2 linked regions of the Homo sapiens genome follow. The protein of the gene in region 1 interacts with the protein of each later gene in a pairwise test. Each region holds a gene or a part of one and is shown on either strand. Other genes may lie near its edges.

Evidence for each region. The genes of interacting proteins can lie anywhere in the genome.
Region 2: the proteins of NR1H4 (region 1) and SETD7 interact in binary tests that used the Homo sapiens proteins (3 or more experiments, as listed by UniProt).

The regions. Positions count from the first base shown.
Region 1 is NC_000012.12:100,469,716-100,477,194, forward strand, and holds the start of NR1H4 (bile acid receptor), read left to right. Parts: upstream 1-4,150; 5' UTR 4,151-4,344; intron 4,345-7,479. UniProt on the Homo sapiens protein: Ligand-activated transcription factor. Receptor for bile acids (BAs) such as chenodeoxycholic acid (CDCA), lithocholic acid, deoxycholic acid (DCA) and allocholic acid (ACA).
Region 2 is NC_000004.12:139,553,166-139,560,667, forward strand, and holds the start of SETD7 (histone-lysine N-methyltransferase SETD7), read right to left. Parts: upstream 3,055-7,502; 5' UTR 2,973-3,054; coding exon 2,933-2,972; intron 1-2,932. UniProt on the Homo sapiens protein: Histone methyltransferase that specifically monomethylates 'Lys-4' of histone H3. H3 'Lys-4' methylation represents a specific tag for epigenetic transcriptional activation.

The DNA of each region.
Region 1 (7,479 bases):
TATCAGTAAAATTTAAAATAAATGTTTATATGTATATATTCACCCACCTCTCTGAGAACTGGTTGTTAATCACCTACCAGCACACCACTGCTCCCACCTCCTGTTCTATCCCGATTTCTTTGTTCCTCCCCCACATTCTTCCTTGAAAGACATTGTCCTTCTCTTTATTTAATGGGATTCTCCAACCTCTCTCCTGTCTCAGAGCCTTTGCTGCTGTCTTTTCCTTACCCTGAAATGCTCCTTTTTTTCCTTCTCAACACCTTTCACTCCCAACACATCAGAGATCCTTCCATCTTAGCTAAAACATCACTTTCTTAGAGGAAGCCTTTCTAAACCCCTCTGACATGGTGAGGGCTCCCTGATAAATACAGTCGCAGAACCCTGTGCTTCTCCTTCATAACATGCTGTCACAAGAGAACTTATAAGATTGTCTGTGTAGTTTTTATTAATTGTCTGTCTCTCACACTAGGCTGTAAATTGCATGACTGCAGGAACCATATCATTTTGTTCACTGCTGATTTGCCAGTGCTTAACAGACTGTTTGGAAAATATTAGCTGCTCAGTAAATGCTTGTTCCTTTTCCCCTTCTTTCTTTCTGTGCTAGTTAGAATTAATCCCATGAATAGAGAGCACATTTTCTGTTTGTTATGATTAATGGAGAGTATTTTATGACACCCTGAACTTTTCCATCTTATCACATAACACAAGTGAATGTTATTCATTCTTTATATGATTTACTTTATTGTTATGGTTATTGCTGTTATTATTTTGCTGAGTGTCCCTTGTTCATGGGATGGTGAGCTTTCAGAGCTTGGGTTTTGGGTCTCTCCTACTCAGCACTAGCACATTGCCTGGGGCATCCAGTTATCAGGGACACAGTGGTGAACAAGATAGGTGTAATCATCTATTTATGTTCCATATAGTGAGAGAGACATGAAACATGTCCATGTATGCTAAGTGGTGCTCAGTGCTTAGTGCTACAGGGTAAAATAAAGCAAGGTAAGAATGAGAAGAGAGGCCAGGTGCGGTGGCTTACGCCTGTAATTCCAGCACTTTGGGAGGCTGAGGCGGGAAGATCGCTTGAGCTTAGGAGTTTGAGACAAGCCTGGGCAACATAGCGAAACTCCATCTCTACTAAATACAAAAAATTAGCTGGGTGTGGCGGCACGTGCATGTAGTCTCAGCTACTCGGGAGGCCGAGGCAGGAGAACCGCTTGAACCCGAAATGCTGAGGTTGCAGTGAGCCAAGATCATGCCACTGCTCTCCAGCCTAGGTGATAGAGCCAGACTGTGTCTCCAAAAACAAACAAACAAAAAAAGGAATGAGAAATGAGAAGTGATATCCTGTACTGGGAAGAGAAATGGCATTGTATTTGGTGTGTCCAGGAAAGGCCTCTCTGGTAAGGTGAGTAGAAACCTGTAGCATGCAATGGAAGGTCTCTGGGCAAAAATCAATCCAGGCTATGGAACAGAAAGTACAGGGGCCCTGGGGAGAGAATGTGCTTTATGAGTTCAGAGAACAACAAGGAGGCCTCATGACCGGCGTGAGTGATAGATGAAGTTAGAGCTATGTTGGGATGGGGTAGGATTCAGGGTCATTTAGATCCTTGGGGTCACTGTAAGAAGTTTGGCCATTACTCTGAGAGAGATGAAAGCCTGTGGGGGTTTTGAGCAAAAGAACGACATGATCCTTTGGTTTTGGTAGGATCACTCTGGCTGCCATGCTGGGAACAAATGACAGAGTGCAAGCATGGAAATAAGGAGGCCACTTAGGAGGCCATGGCACAAACCCAGGTGCAAGAAACCTGGCATGGACCAGAGAGATGACAGTGGAGGTGGTGGGAAGGTATCAGATTCAATACATATATTGTGAAGGTAAAACTTAAACATTTTCTAATGGATTGATTGTGTGGTGTGAAGAGAAGAAAAATAATTGTTGAAATTTTTGAATGGGCTCTTATGTCATACCCAGCACTATGTGCTACACCACTGGAGATCCAAAAGGATGGGAAATACATGCCACCCTCAGGGAGTATCCAGTCCAGTGGGCAAATACGATTGTCAGTGTGAAGGCCCAGAGAAAATAATAACAGCTAACCCCTACACAGCACTTTCTGTGTGTCAGGTACCAGCGCTTTGCATAGATTAATTCATTAAATCCTTGCAATAACCTCATGAAATACATAGTAATTATATCTTTATTTTACAGATGGGGAAACTGAGACAGATGTTAAGGAAAAGCCTAAGGTCTAAGGTCACACAGCTTGTAAGTGGCAGAGCTGGGATTTGAACCCAGCCGGTCCAGCGCCACAGTCTGTGTCTTCAGTCATTGTCTCCATCTCTGCTGGAGAGAATGAAATCACAGTACAGGCTCTTATCATCCAAGAAGAAATGGGCTTGGTGTCACATAGAAGTCACACAGGAGTCCCTCAGGCAGCCCAGAGCTGCAGAGTGCAGTAAGTGTCAGTGCAAACTCTCTTCAAAAGAAAATGTACAGGCCTGGGGTGACCCTCTTCCTTGTGCCGAAGGGGCTGGAGGATGCACCATAGTACATTGGGAACCCCCAGAAGTAGGTAGGAAGTAGGAGCCTGTAGGACCTACAAAAATGCTATTTTATAAGAGAAGCAAAATATAACATTTCTAACAGGTTTGAATGTAGATCTTCTACTAGCTGACCTTGTGACGGGAAACAAATGACACACATCACAGATGGGAAATGCACACATCACATACACACACACACACACACACACACACAGGTGCATGTGCAGCCATGCTGCTTTGGGAAGTTGTTTCTCAGCTCACTCATTGATTGCGTTAACAAAGAGTTACACAATGCTTTTTCTGTGAGAGGCACTGTGCTAAGACAAAGGGTAGATACAAAGACAAGTCTGCTACCATGCCTGGTTTTTGTAAAAGAGATAAAACAAGTAGAAAACTATAATATATAAGGTCAGAGGATTTAAGGGACAGCAAGGAAACTACAAATAAAAGATCAAGGGAGTTGGGTGGGGAGAATAGGGGCAGATGAGGAATGGGGCTGGCTTCAGGGAGAACTCTGCTTCTGTTCCACGCCTGGAAGATGTGTGGGTGTGAAAAGAAAGTAACTGAGGTAGAAGGAAGAGCTTGTGCAAAAGTGTGGAGGCGGGAGAGCTTGGTACAGGTTGGCAGAGGTTGGGATGTCTGAAGGGACAGAATGTGAGAAAATCCTAGAGACATTAGGGCTAGATCTTCAGGTGTGGAAGGGGTTCTAAATGTCAAGCATTTTGTGTTCGTTTTTTAGGCATAGAGAGTGCATTGGGGATTTTCGATGAGGGGAGTGCCTAGCAAGTTGCTGGGTACATAGTAGGCTGATAATCAATCAATGATGGTTCAACTAATGAAGGAGAGAAATAATAATTGCCACAAATTATTGGGTGATTGCTATCTGCCACACACTTTTCTAAACATTTTCACTACTCATGTAATTCTCACCACAGCCCATGAGATGGTTTCTCCATATCCATTCTACAGATGAGGAAACTGAGACTCAGAGAGGCTAAGTGTCTTGCTCAAGGCTGTGACTAAAGAGTGGGCATCTAACCAGAGCCTGTGCTTCCACACTGCTGTGCAATTTGGAAAACAGAAGAAGGGGAGAGAAGAAAAAGGGGTTGTGGGACCAATGTCATCCAGAAAGGAAGCTATGATAGGCCCAAAGTAGGAGAAGAACAATGTGGGTTGGAAATAAGAGACATTCCAAAGATGCAATCAACCCAAATCTGTTATTATTTGATATGGGTGGCTGGGCAGAGGGAAGGGTCAAAAAGGCTCCCAGCTTCTAGTTCAGTCCCGGGGAAGTGATAGAGCTATTCAAAGAAGTTGTAGTGAGAGAGAGGGAAGATGACAGTTTGGTTTTAGTTGATGTGTACAGAAATACGGGTGCCCAGGAGCCCACAAAACGGCCAGAGGAGAAATGCTTTCAAAGGCAAGCTGCAGGGCTCCTTGGTTTTGTCACATTCCTCATTCTGGGGCTTTGCGGTTTTGTCTTGGGAATCTCGAGGCTCTCCCAAGGTTCCTTTCTATGTTTATATCATTTAGCAGGGAAGGATTGTTAATGACTAATCTGTGTCCATGAGGCACAGAGCCAAGGAAGAGATGCTGCTGCTAGCCCAGAAGGCCGCCTGTGATCATGCACAGTACACTGGAACTCTCTCCTCCTCCTCACCTCATTGTCTCCCCGACTTATCCTAATGCGAAATTGGATTCTGAGCATTTGTAGCAAAATCGCTGGGATCTGGAGAGGAAGACTCAGTCCAGAATCCTCCCAGGGCCTTGAAAGTCCATCTCTGACCCAAAACAATCCAAGTAAGTACCTAATTCCTTTGGGAGTGGGTTGTGTATCTCACAGCAACAGAGAAAAAATAGTCACTTAAAAGTTTCTCTTTGACATCTGTAATGTATGTCAATAAATGAATTCTAAGTTAGTAGAGTTTGATGTAAAGTCCTGAAAATTAAAAAAGAGAGAAACTAAAAAACAAAAAGAAGCAGAAGCAAAAGTTAATGAGTCTTAACAGTTGCTTACCTATTGAAAACTTATTTAGAAATACTCTTTTAACATTGTGGTCACCTGAGTAAATCACTGGAGATAGTGCATTTCAGAAATGTCTCCGTTCTGATTCCATAAACAATTTGACTTGTATAGTGTGCTATATTTTGGTGATTTATCAAATCTTGATGTGAGTTTGGGAGTATTGCTAATGTCAGATGACTTGGGAACTAAGAATAAGACATTTAACCTATGCTTAATTGAAATGAAATTTTTCCCTAGAAGAAGAGTAGGTGGAAAAAGTCTTCTTTCTTGACTTCAGTTGTAAACTCTTCTATTGCTTTCCATTTTGAATATTAATATGACAGGAAATATCAGATGGAAATATTTTTAAAAGATAGAAATGTGAGTATGACGAAGAACTTTAGTAATAAAATTGTCCAAGGACTAAATTTATAGATAAGATACCTCTTTGTCTCCTTATTGACAGAGTGAATGGGGCAACTGTGGAGCCTGACTTACTTCTTTTAATTGGGTTTTTATTCAGAAGGGAGGGGCAGGAGGGAATGACAAGTGACTCACCTTGAATTCTTCCTCTAAGAAACTCACACCTGAGCTTTGAGCTATAAAGAAATCTGATGCTGTTTCTGGTGCTGTCTTAGAATCACTTCAGGAGTATTGACAAGAGGGGTAGGAACCCTTAGAAATAATATTAGTGATAAATAAGAAGGCAGGAAGAAACTTTTGGAGGTGATGGATAGGTTTATGGTATAGATTGTGGTGATGATTTAATGAGTGTATGCCTATCCCCAGACTCATCAAAGTGTATACATGGAATATGTAAAGCTTTTATATGTCAGTCACACCTCAGTAAAGTGGTTTACCTATCTATCTATCTATCTATCTATCTATCTATCTAAATTTTTTTTTCTGTTCCTAAAAAAAGGAAGGGAGAAGAGAGGAAAAGATGTTCAGGGAGCTACCATTTTGTTTCTAGCTGTGATTTTATAAAATGATAGACACTTTTATCTTTGTGTTACGTTCCTACCCCCAGTCCTCCAAATTATGGATCTGTGCCATTTGTACCGTGGACTTTTCTGTTTTCTGAGGATGTTGCAACAAATACTGATGCAACTCCTGGTTAACTGATAAAGTACTGGCCAGGGACAAAGCTCTCTTGTCCTGAGACCCTTCCTCAAGATTTGCAGCAATTTCCCACCACGTACCTCTGCCCTCTCCTCACAGCTGGAGAGGGAAAGTCATGGAATCCTTGTCCTTCCTCTTGTTTCCACCTCTTCAAGATTGGGCCAATTGCAATGGAATATCCATTGGTTGTGAGGCCTTTGTACTCTGCAAGGAAAAGAAAAGAAATGTGTGTATGTATGAGTGTGTGATGGAGCTAACTTTTCTACAATGTCTACTAACATGTCCTAGCCTTTACTTCATTCGCCTGTTTCCTTCTCACAAAAACCCTGTATGGGAGTTTTTCTTTACTTTTTATTATTATTTTTTTGAGACAAAGTCTCGCTCTGTCTCCCAGGCTGGAGTGCAGTGGCGCTATATCGGCTCACTGCAGCCTCCACCTCCCGGGTTCAAGCGATTCTCCTGCCTCAGCCTCCTGAGTAGCTGGTACTACAGGCGTGCACCACCATGCCACTATTTTTTGTATTTTTAGTAGAGACGGGGTTTCACTATGTTGGCCAGACTGGTCTCGAACTCTTGACCTCAGGTGATCCGCCCGCCTCGGCTTCCCAGAGTGCTAGGATTACAGGCGTGAGCCACTGCGCCCAGCCAGGAGTTTTTCTTATACTCATTTTACAGATGAGAAAACTGAGACTCAAAAAATACAAGTGACCCGTCCACAGGCAGATAGTTAGGAAGTAGCGGGACCTGAACTTGAGGGCGGGTCTTTCTGACTCCAAAGCCTCTTCCTGGCTACTCTGATATTGGCTATTGGCGGAGGCTGGGAAAACTTGAAATGGGGAATGATCGGGGAGCGGCGAGGGGGGACCAGCCGTTAAGCATTCCAGCCTGACAGGGGTGATTTGTTAAACCCAGGAACTAGTTAGACGTTTCCTGAAACCTCCTGCATAGGGCATTTTCGAGAGATTGCACCATCAGTAGGGAAACTGGAAAGTTTGGAGCACTATTTGTTTTAACCCAGAGACCAGTCTAAGATAGCTGGGTGAATATTTCCGTTATCAGCGTTTTAATTAAAGACCACAATGAACTCTCCATGCTGCTGTGATTAGGGACATCTTAGAGAGGAGCTCAGAACTGCTGTGGCTCACAGTCTCTGGATTATGAATGCCATGAGAATGCATATCATGATGTGATAGATTTTCAAAGGCTCACATTGTCATTAGGTGGGTGCATAAAGGACAGAAAAGGTTCTTTACTTCATAGAAAGAGATTTCCCTTCCCTTTGCTCTCAGTCTCATTTTTATCTTAGTCTCTAGCAACACAGATTATAAAGGGGAATAAAAGAAAATAGGAACAAGCTAGATACAGTGATGAGTGCCTGTGATCCCAGCAGCTCGGGCGGCTGAGGTGGAAGGATTGCTTGAGCTCAGGAGTTCAAGGCTGCAGTGAGCTATGATAATGCCACTATACTCTAGCCTGGGTAACATAGAGAGACACCACCTCAAAATTTTTTTTAAAAAATAAGAAATAGGAACAATTTTCCTCCCAGGTATTTTTTTATTGTCACAGTAGTTTCTACCAGTGAAGATGTAGCTAAAAGGCATCACCATACGAGTGTCCTTAGTCACCAAGCTGTATGAGGAGGCAAAAATCATTATTACATACAAATATTCATCCTTCTGTCTTTTCTCTCCCTTCTCTCACCCTGCTCTGGAATCCCCTAACCCCTTTGCTCTTCACAGTGAATTATTTTCTCCCTCAGTTTGCCCATTTCCAATTTTGGCCATAAAAGAACATCTACTATTCCTACT
Region 2 (7,502 bases), on another chromosome or scaffold:
TGTCCACTCTGAGTTCAGAACTTTCCCAGAGTTACAATCATACCCTGACAGAGAACCAAATGCACATGATATATAAGACATTTAAACTCAATCCTGAAGAGACTAATTTCTTCCCCAGAGTAAATCTCTAATGAAGAAGAAAAAAGATAGCTATTGCAGAGGACACAGGTTCTTTCTCCCCAAATACATTTTTCTGAAAGTCACTGAACTCTGTCAGAACCAACCTCTACAGAGTTACACTGATAAAAAATGGCACTGACATAATATTTAACTGTTGCTTCCAAACTCAGTTATCAAGTGTTTCATAAATTTGACTAACTCATTAAAAATAAAAAATGTAGGAAGACAGTTTGGTCTGGTGGAGGGCTGTTTTGGAAGTCCAAGCCAGTCTCTCCACCTCACTGAGTGTTCTTGGATTAGTCCTTAACTTCTGTATGCCTCAGTTCCCGCCTCTGTAAAATTAGGATAATATTAGTACCCACCTCATAAGACTGAATAAGACTGAATGGATAATGTCTGTGAAACACTTAGCACAGAGCCTGCACTTAATAAGAACTAAACAATTATAGCAATGATAATAATAGCTATGACAATGAAACTACTGAGAACAGAGGCTCTGTTTATGGAAAGAGGTAGATTAGTTGGTACTTAAACACTAAGATATTCAGACTAGCTTCTCTTTGGGAAAGAACAGAAGCAGTTTATACCAGTCCCCTATGTAAGTGTTAGATGTTATGTAAAGACTATTGCAAACAGCACTAAAAAGGCCAAGAATGGCTGGACAAGAGTGCACGCACAGGTACGGTTTACTGCATGTGCACACACACACTCCTGGCACTGTGCAAGTTAGAGCCTGAGATGCTTCTAGGGGCTTTTAAAGATTCTGTGCTGCTCTAATTGTTTAGTTAGCTACAACTGAGTGACCATGTGTCCCAGATTGCCCCAGACATTCAAGGCTTAAGCTACCTGCCCCAGCATCATTATTAATAGTGTGCCCTCTCATTCTCAAGGGGGTTCTGATTTTGGACAATAATGTACATAATTACCCTATAAAACAAAACCATCCCTGTTTATATGAACTTCCCTGTTTTCGAATCCAGTGGATGTTCTCAAAAAACAATACTGCCATTTCTAAAGCTCTTGGTCACAGTCTGCAAAGGAGCCTGAGGACTATGGACAACTGGACATATGTTTGTAAACAGCTTCAAAGGGGAATGGATGTGGTTTAACATGGAGAACAGTACCAGCAATTAAGGGTTTGTATTTAATTTTTACAAGTAAAAGTAAACGTTGAAGAAAGAGAGCAAGCCCTAACAATCTGAGATCATTTTTCCTTTATCTTTCACAACATGGAGGCACAAGAAGTCAACAACTTTTAACTTCTCAGAAGGCTCCCTGTGGATCAACTCAATCAATGTATCTGGGCCTCACTCCAGTAAGCCCCAACATTGGCTTTATTTATTAGAGAGATAAATAGCTCTGTGAGTTCACAACATGGTGAAAATTTTCTTAACAAAAACCACAGTCTTTAATTGGCTTCGAAGTTAGATGAAGAAATAAGTTTTAATATTGGCATTACATTGGATACTTTTCAAGAGTTCAGAAATATTAGTCTGCTTAATCTCCCCTTAAGATCTCAGAAGCACTGCAAAGGGAGTTATGTTTATGAAAACATTAAAACTGATTTTTCCCTAGTGTAACAATAACCATGTATCCTTATGCATTTGTAGTGTCGCCACTTTTTTTCTTTATCCTTCGTCAGAACTTGTGTTTATACAAATCAGACAGAAACCAGATTCAACCAACAGCTAAAAATTATTTACTCACATGCTTAGTTTAAAACATTCTGGTATCATACCACACCACACTGAAAAACATCACGACGTACTGTATGGAGTGGAACCAAATAAATACGCTAAAGAGTATTTTCCAGTATTCGCTGTTACAAAATCATAACATCCTATGATACAAACAACGAGATTGTATAACGTCCCCACATCGTTTTTTCAGAACTAACAAAAAAAAAAAAAAAAAGGTGGAGAAACTCAGCAAAACAAAGTGGCGAGAAAAGTCGGGGGAGGGGCGGTAGAAGAGAAGGGGCGGAGAAACACGACACTGAGGCGGTGATATCACCCACAGCCAACGGCATGGAATTCAGAAAGTTAAGTGTCACCCAGCAATCTCGGTGCGGACTCGCGGCGCGCCTGCACAGCGTGGCGGCTGCATCCCAGCCAAGCAGGAAGGGGGAGGGGGAGGCCTGACTGAGTTCGCTCGGGGGCAGCTGAGGGGAGGGCTGCCCGCCTCCCGGACGGCGCACGTTCGAGTCCCGGGTCGGGAGACTTGTCCGTCGCCCGACAATGATTTCATCTTTTCGGAAGAGCTGCCGCCTGGGCCGCGGCTGCCACGTGCCTGGTCTGGCCCCGTGCGCTGCGCCGGGGGACCTACCCGGACGGGGCCGCGGCCGCCGCGGGGCGCAGAGGCAGCAGAAGGGAAGGGCTGGCGGCCGGGAGGGGATCGGGGTGGCCAAAACTGGGCTAGGGGATTGCTCCGCGGAGTCCGCCGGCCTCAAGGGGCTGCCCTGCGGAGTGCACCCACCCTCCGCGCCCAAAGGCGGAAAGGCCAGAGCGCGGGGCAGGTTTCGCAACTCCGAGGGTGGATGCAGGCTGTGGCCGGGCGGGATGGAGCGGCCGTGCGTTTCCAGCGCCCCCGGCCTGGCGGAGCCCCATTCTCGGCCTGCGCCCCGCCGCGCAGTGCGCGCTCCCGGCGGCGTGACCGTGGCTGTCGGGCCCCCGCCCGAGCCGGGCAACCGGCCACCCGTGTAGGGGACAGTGGCGGCCGCGGGGCCCGGCGCCGCGCTGTTCGCAGCCCGCCACTCCTTCCGCGCTCCAGGCCCTCTGCGCCTCCTCCCCCGGCCCCGGAGAAATGCTTGTACCTTCCACCGCCTCCTCCACCATCTCGTCGTCGCTATCCATGGCGGCTGGGGACACTGCCCAGCTCGGGGCTGCGCGGCTGCCTCCCGTCCCTCTGGGTGCTCCCGGCGGCTGAGCGAGCTCTGGGGCTCGCGAGTTTGGAGGAGGAGGAGGAAGAGGAGGAGCAGTCGGGGCTGGCTCGCACTGCCTCCCCCTACAGCCCTTTCAATTCCTTGGCCTTCAGCTGCTGCGGCAGCAGCCGTCGTCCCCCCTCCCTTCGCCCACTTGCCCCTCGCCTCGGAGGCTCCGGTGTGCCGCCTTGGCCGCTGCCGCTGCTGCAACTTTCTCCTGTAATACCCTCTCTTTGTTATCGAGCAGCTGATCCGCTGACATCACCCAGCGCCGGTGCGCTCCCTCCCTCGCTGATTGACAGTTCCCTGTCCCTTTCCAGAAGTAAGGCTCCTTAAAACGAAAGGCGCTCCGGGGCCGCGCGTATTCCGCGTCCCAGCCAACCCGCCTCCGGCCCGTCAGCGTTTCTCTTTTGCTTAGGTGCGGCTTGGCGCGCCCCGAGCGCTCAACGCGGTCCTGGGCGCTGCGGGCTTCTCGCGGACACTTGGACCGCCCGTAGGGGCTCCGAGCTCCCGACCTCCCGTTGTGCCGGGAGCAACTTGAAAGTCCGTCGTGCACTGTCCGTGTTCCCTCGAGACAACCTCCAAAGTGCCAGGGAAGCTAAGGAAGCGTTTCTGACGCTCTGGCGCCTGGACTTCCTCTCACCCTCGCCCCCACATCACCCCGTCGCCACCGGGAGCTGCACGAGTGCGACACGCAAGGGAGCGCAGGTGTCCTCGCGGTCCCGCATCACATCCGCAAGCCGATTTCCCCAGCTCGGGGGCTGTTATCTGGCCCGGATTCCGCAGGATGGCGGGTCCACCCCAGCGCCCCCACTCCCCGCCCTCCTTCGGGTCGCCAGGCCCTCGGGTGATTCAGAAATTCATCAAATCCAAATGGCAGCGGGCTCTCTGTCAGGCAGGAAACAAGCCGCACCGAAGGCTCGGCAGGTTCCTCCTTGCTGCTGTGGTAATGGAAAAGGAGCCGCCGAGTGGAGCTAACGAGGAAGGAAGGACCCTCCGTCTGGCGCGCCTCTTTCCCGCGCCTCCCGCCCTGTACGTGTGATGTCCCCAGCTGTCTCTCTGTTTCTCCAAGTGCCAACCACTTCACAGATTCAGGCGTCCTCAAGTGGAGAAAACCATTGGGCACCCGGCTTCCGGCCCGGCCACTTAGTGTCGTTATGGCGCTGCCTCTTACAGGTGGCGGTAAAGGGCGACTGTAAATAGCCGATTAAACAGATGTAAATGTACACAATGTACCGTGGAATTACCGGGTGCCGCTCTGGGCACCCGCCAAGAACAGCTACTGCATGGAGGGGAGGAGGGAGCAAAAAAAAAGTAATTCCATTTTGTTTTCTGATCAATGAATGAGACTTTGGGGATTTCAAAATACTTCCAGCGCCCAGGAGACTACTCCTTGCTTTTGGCTCTGTGCTTAAATGGTAGATATTTTTGTCAAGTATTGCCGGCTTGTTTCTTAAAGTCAGCTTTTCCTCTATGAAAAAGAGAACAATGCTAGGGACATTAGCCCCACACACTTCCAGGAATTTCAGCCCCTTTGACTGTTTTAGAAAGGGGAGGGTCCTGGACCAGAAGTTAGGAGACTTGAGTCCTGGTGCTGCTCACCTGCAGAGGTGTCTTGGGAGCCCAGCCAGCCAGCCTGAATTCCTCCAGATTAGAGGCTTAGTCTACATTGACATAAGGTCCTTGGGGCTTAGGCTAGAGCACTCTGAGGTTCTTTGGCTCAAGCAAGACACCCTCTAGCTTAGTCTATACCTCTCTGAAGTCTCTTGGCTTAGGTTTGACCTCCTTAAAGTCCTCCAGTGCAGATACTGGGAGTCCAAGGCTAAACAGAGAAGGTGTACGTGCAGTGGAAGATGAAAGAGCCACTTTAGGTTACATCATTTTCAAACATGAACCACAGAAACAGGATTTTATATCTGATTTTTAAAAAGCCATCATTTACTGAGCTCGGTCACTCACTGGTTTTGAATTATATGATATTTTTTCTCATTTAACCTTTTTACATATCACCCCCTCCCTTGCATATTATACTGGTGCACTAAAACATACCAGATACTCGTCTTCCCCAGTTTCCAGTTGATTTTCAGGGTGAAAAACAATGCTGAAAGCTGAAGGAAGCAGCAAAAAGACTTTATTCTCTTACTCAAAGGCAGTGAGGCAGGGCTGGGAGGCTGGAAGAAATCTCTCAAGACGTACAGAAGACACAGTTTCATGGTGGGTGGGTACGTGTGGGAGTGAAGGAGAGGGGAGGAATCATGTTGCAAGTGTCCAACTGTCCCCTTGGTGCTGTGAGGTTTTCCCAGCCTGTACTAAGCACCCAAACTGTCAAGCGCTCCCTTTCTACCTACTACCTTGAGAACACCTGAAACCCTGCCTACGGCACCCCCCAACCCCGGCCCCCGCCGTCGGTGAAGCAGGGGTCCTCTGGACCTACAAGAGGCAGGGACAGGAAGGGAGCAGGGTCTTTCTAGCAAAGTCAGTAGTGATGCGGGGTCAAACTACAGAGAACCTTCACCAGATCTGCACATGAGGCAGGCAGCAGCAGGGACACAGTCCCATCCCTCTTCCCCCACCATTCATTCCTGCTGGCTCTGGGCCCAAAGCTGGGGCAAAATGTTTTTATGACTCTCTTAAGATCCACTTGTATCTTTACAAATCATGTTGTGTATGTTTCGAGTCTCCTTCTCTAGACGGACTGATTCTTATTTATGGTCCTAGAACACAACACAGTGCCTGGTACAGAATGTGGGTTAAGCATTGTCAGCAATGATTTTGCAGATAGGAATATTCTGTTTTATATAAACAGTGCTGAGGCTTTCTCACAGACTGGATTCTCCTCCTATGTTTTGGCAAAGTGCTTTGTTTCAGTTCAAATCTGAAGAGCATTTTTGAGTTGTTCTACTTTCCCACATCGACTGGCCCCAAATCTGCTTCCATCGCATTCTTTCCCACAGTTTTCTTCATTGAGAGCTGATTTCATAAACTCTCTTTCTACTTGGCTTTCCACCAGTTTCCCCTGTCGTACTCTGTCCCCACCAATGTGGTCATGGGCTAGAAAATCAATAAAACTCTTAATCACAAACAATGTGCAGCAGCAACAGCAGCAGCAGAAGTAGTGTGGCTCAGCTCCTAACTTGGCAGATCCCAGTGAGACAGAACAAGCTCTACCAGGGAGGAACGGGACCGCACAGGACATCCAACATCTAGGCTGGGTGAGACTTGCTTTCATGTTCACACTGAGAGTGACTTTTTTTTCCCTGTCTTTGGTCTTGAATCAGGAGGAGGGGTGACTTTTCTAAGCTGCTCTGGCTTAGTTTCCATTGCCTCCAAGGCTATATTCCTTCTCTTCATACCCAGCTTGGGAAACATAATTCCCTCTTCCATTGCAGCAAGCAGTCAAAATACTGAGTTAATTTTATTCATTCTACCACCCCTGTCTTTCCCTGGAGAAGGCTGGTGCTTACATACAAGACTGATATAACTTTTGCAATAAATATATTTTTACAAGCTTCTTGTATTTTATGCACCTTCCTACATTTAGGGGAAACAATTCTGTCAATTCGCTGCTATGCATGCTAAGCGAATTGTGAAACAAGTAGTGAATGTGGAACTTATGTGGGATTCACTACTGTTGGCTGTTACTGACTCCTCATCCTGCCCGCTGGCAGGGAGTGGAGGGGCCCAAGCAGTCTTCTGGGTCTCCATGTATTTGGGAGGGAGGAGCCTCTGAGACCTCAGCGGTAGGAAGTCGCATCAGAGCCTCTCCAGAAGCCCTGGTGGCTTTATGGTTGCTGGCCTGGCTCTGGTTTCCATCACTTGCTTACACCGCCAGCAGGATGACAAGGATAAAATTAGTGAAAGACCTTTTAAATAATCATCAAGTCTCGTTTTGGCACTGCTCACTCCTTCACAAGATTTTTTCCCACCAAATTAGCCAGTTTGATTGAGTTTTTGCTTTGTCTGTTTTGGTTCCACCAAGAACTAGCCAAGCAACTGGGCAATTCAGTTCTGCGGGGGCCGGGGGGGGGGCCTTCGTTTTCCCATCTGTAAATGAAGAGTTGGGCTACATAAATTCGAAGCTCAAACCTTCTCTGTCCACCTTTTCTGGAGAAAAGGTAAATAGAGCCTGAGAAGCCCCAGGAAAAGGCACATAAAAAGGAAATGGGAAGAAGCCAGGGCAACTCCAACAAACTGAATACTCAAGTCCTCTCACGTTAATGGCTCTATCTGGGCAGGCAGGTGAGGGGAGAACCTTTATCTTGACTCTAGGGAGGGAAGCATGGAAGTTTTAGGAGAACCAAGGTTCCTGGGTTCTGAATCACTGAGTCACTAATCAAGTGGCTAACTGTGTTAGTGACAACTGCAGAAGCTGGAGGGAGGGGCTGGGAGAGGAGCAGCGAGGAGGAGACGGGTGGGGGAGGAGATGGGGATGAAAGGGAAGCGTTTGCAGCTTGTGGAGCAC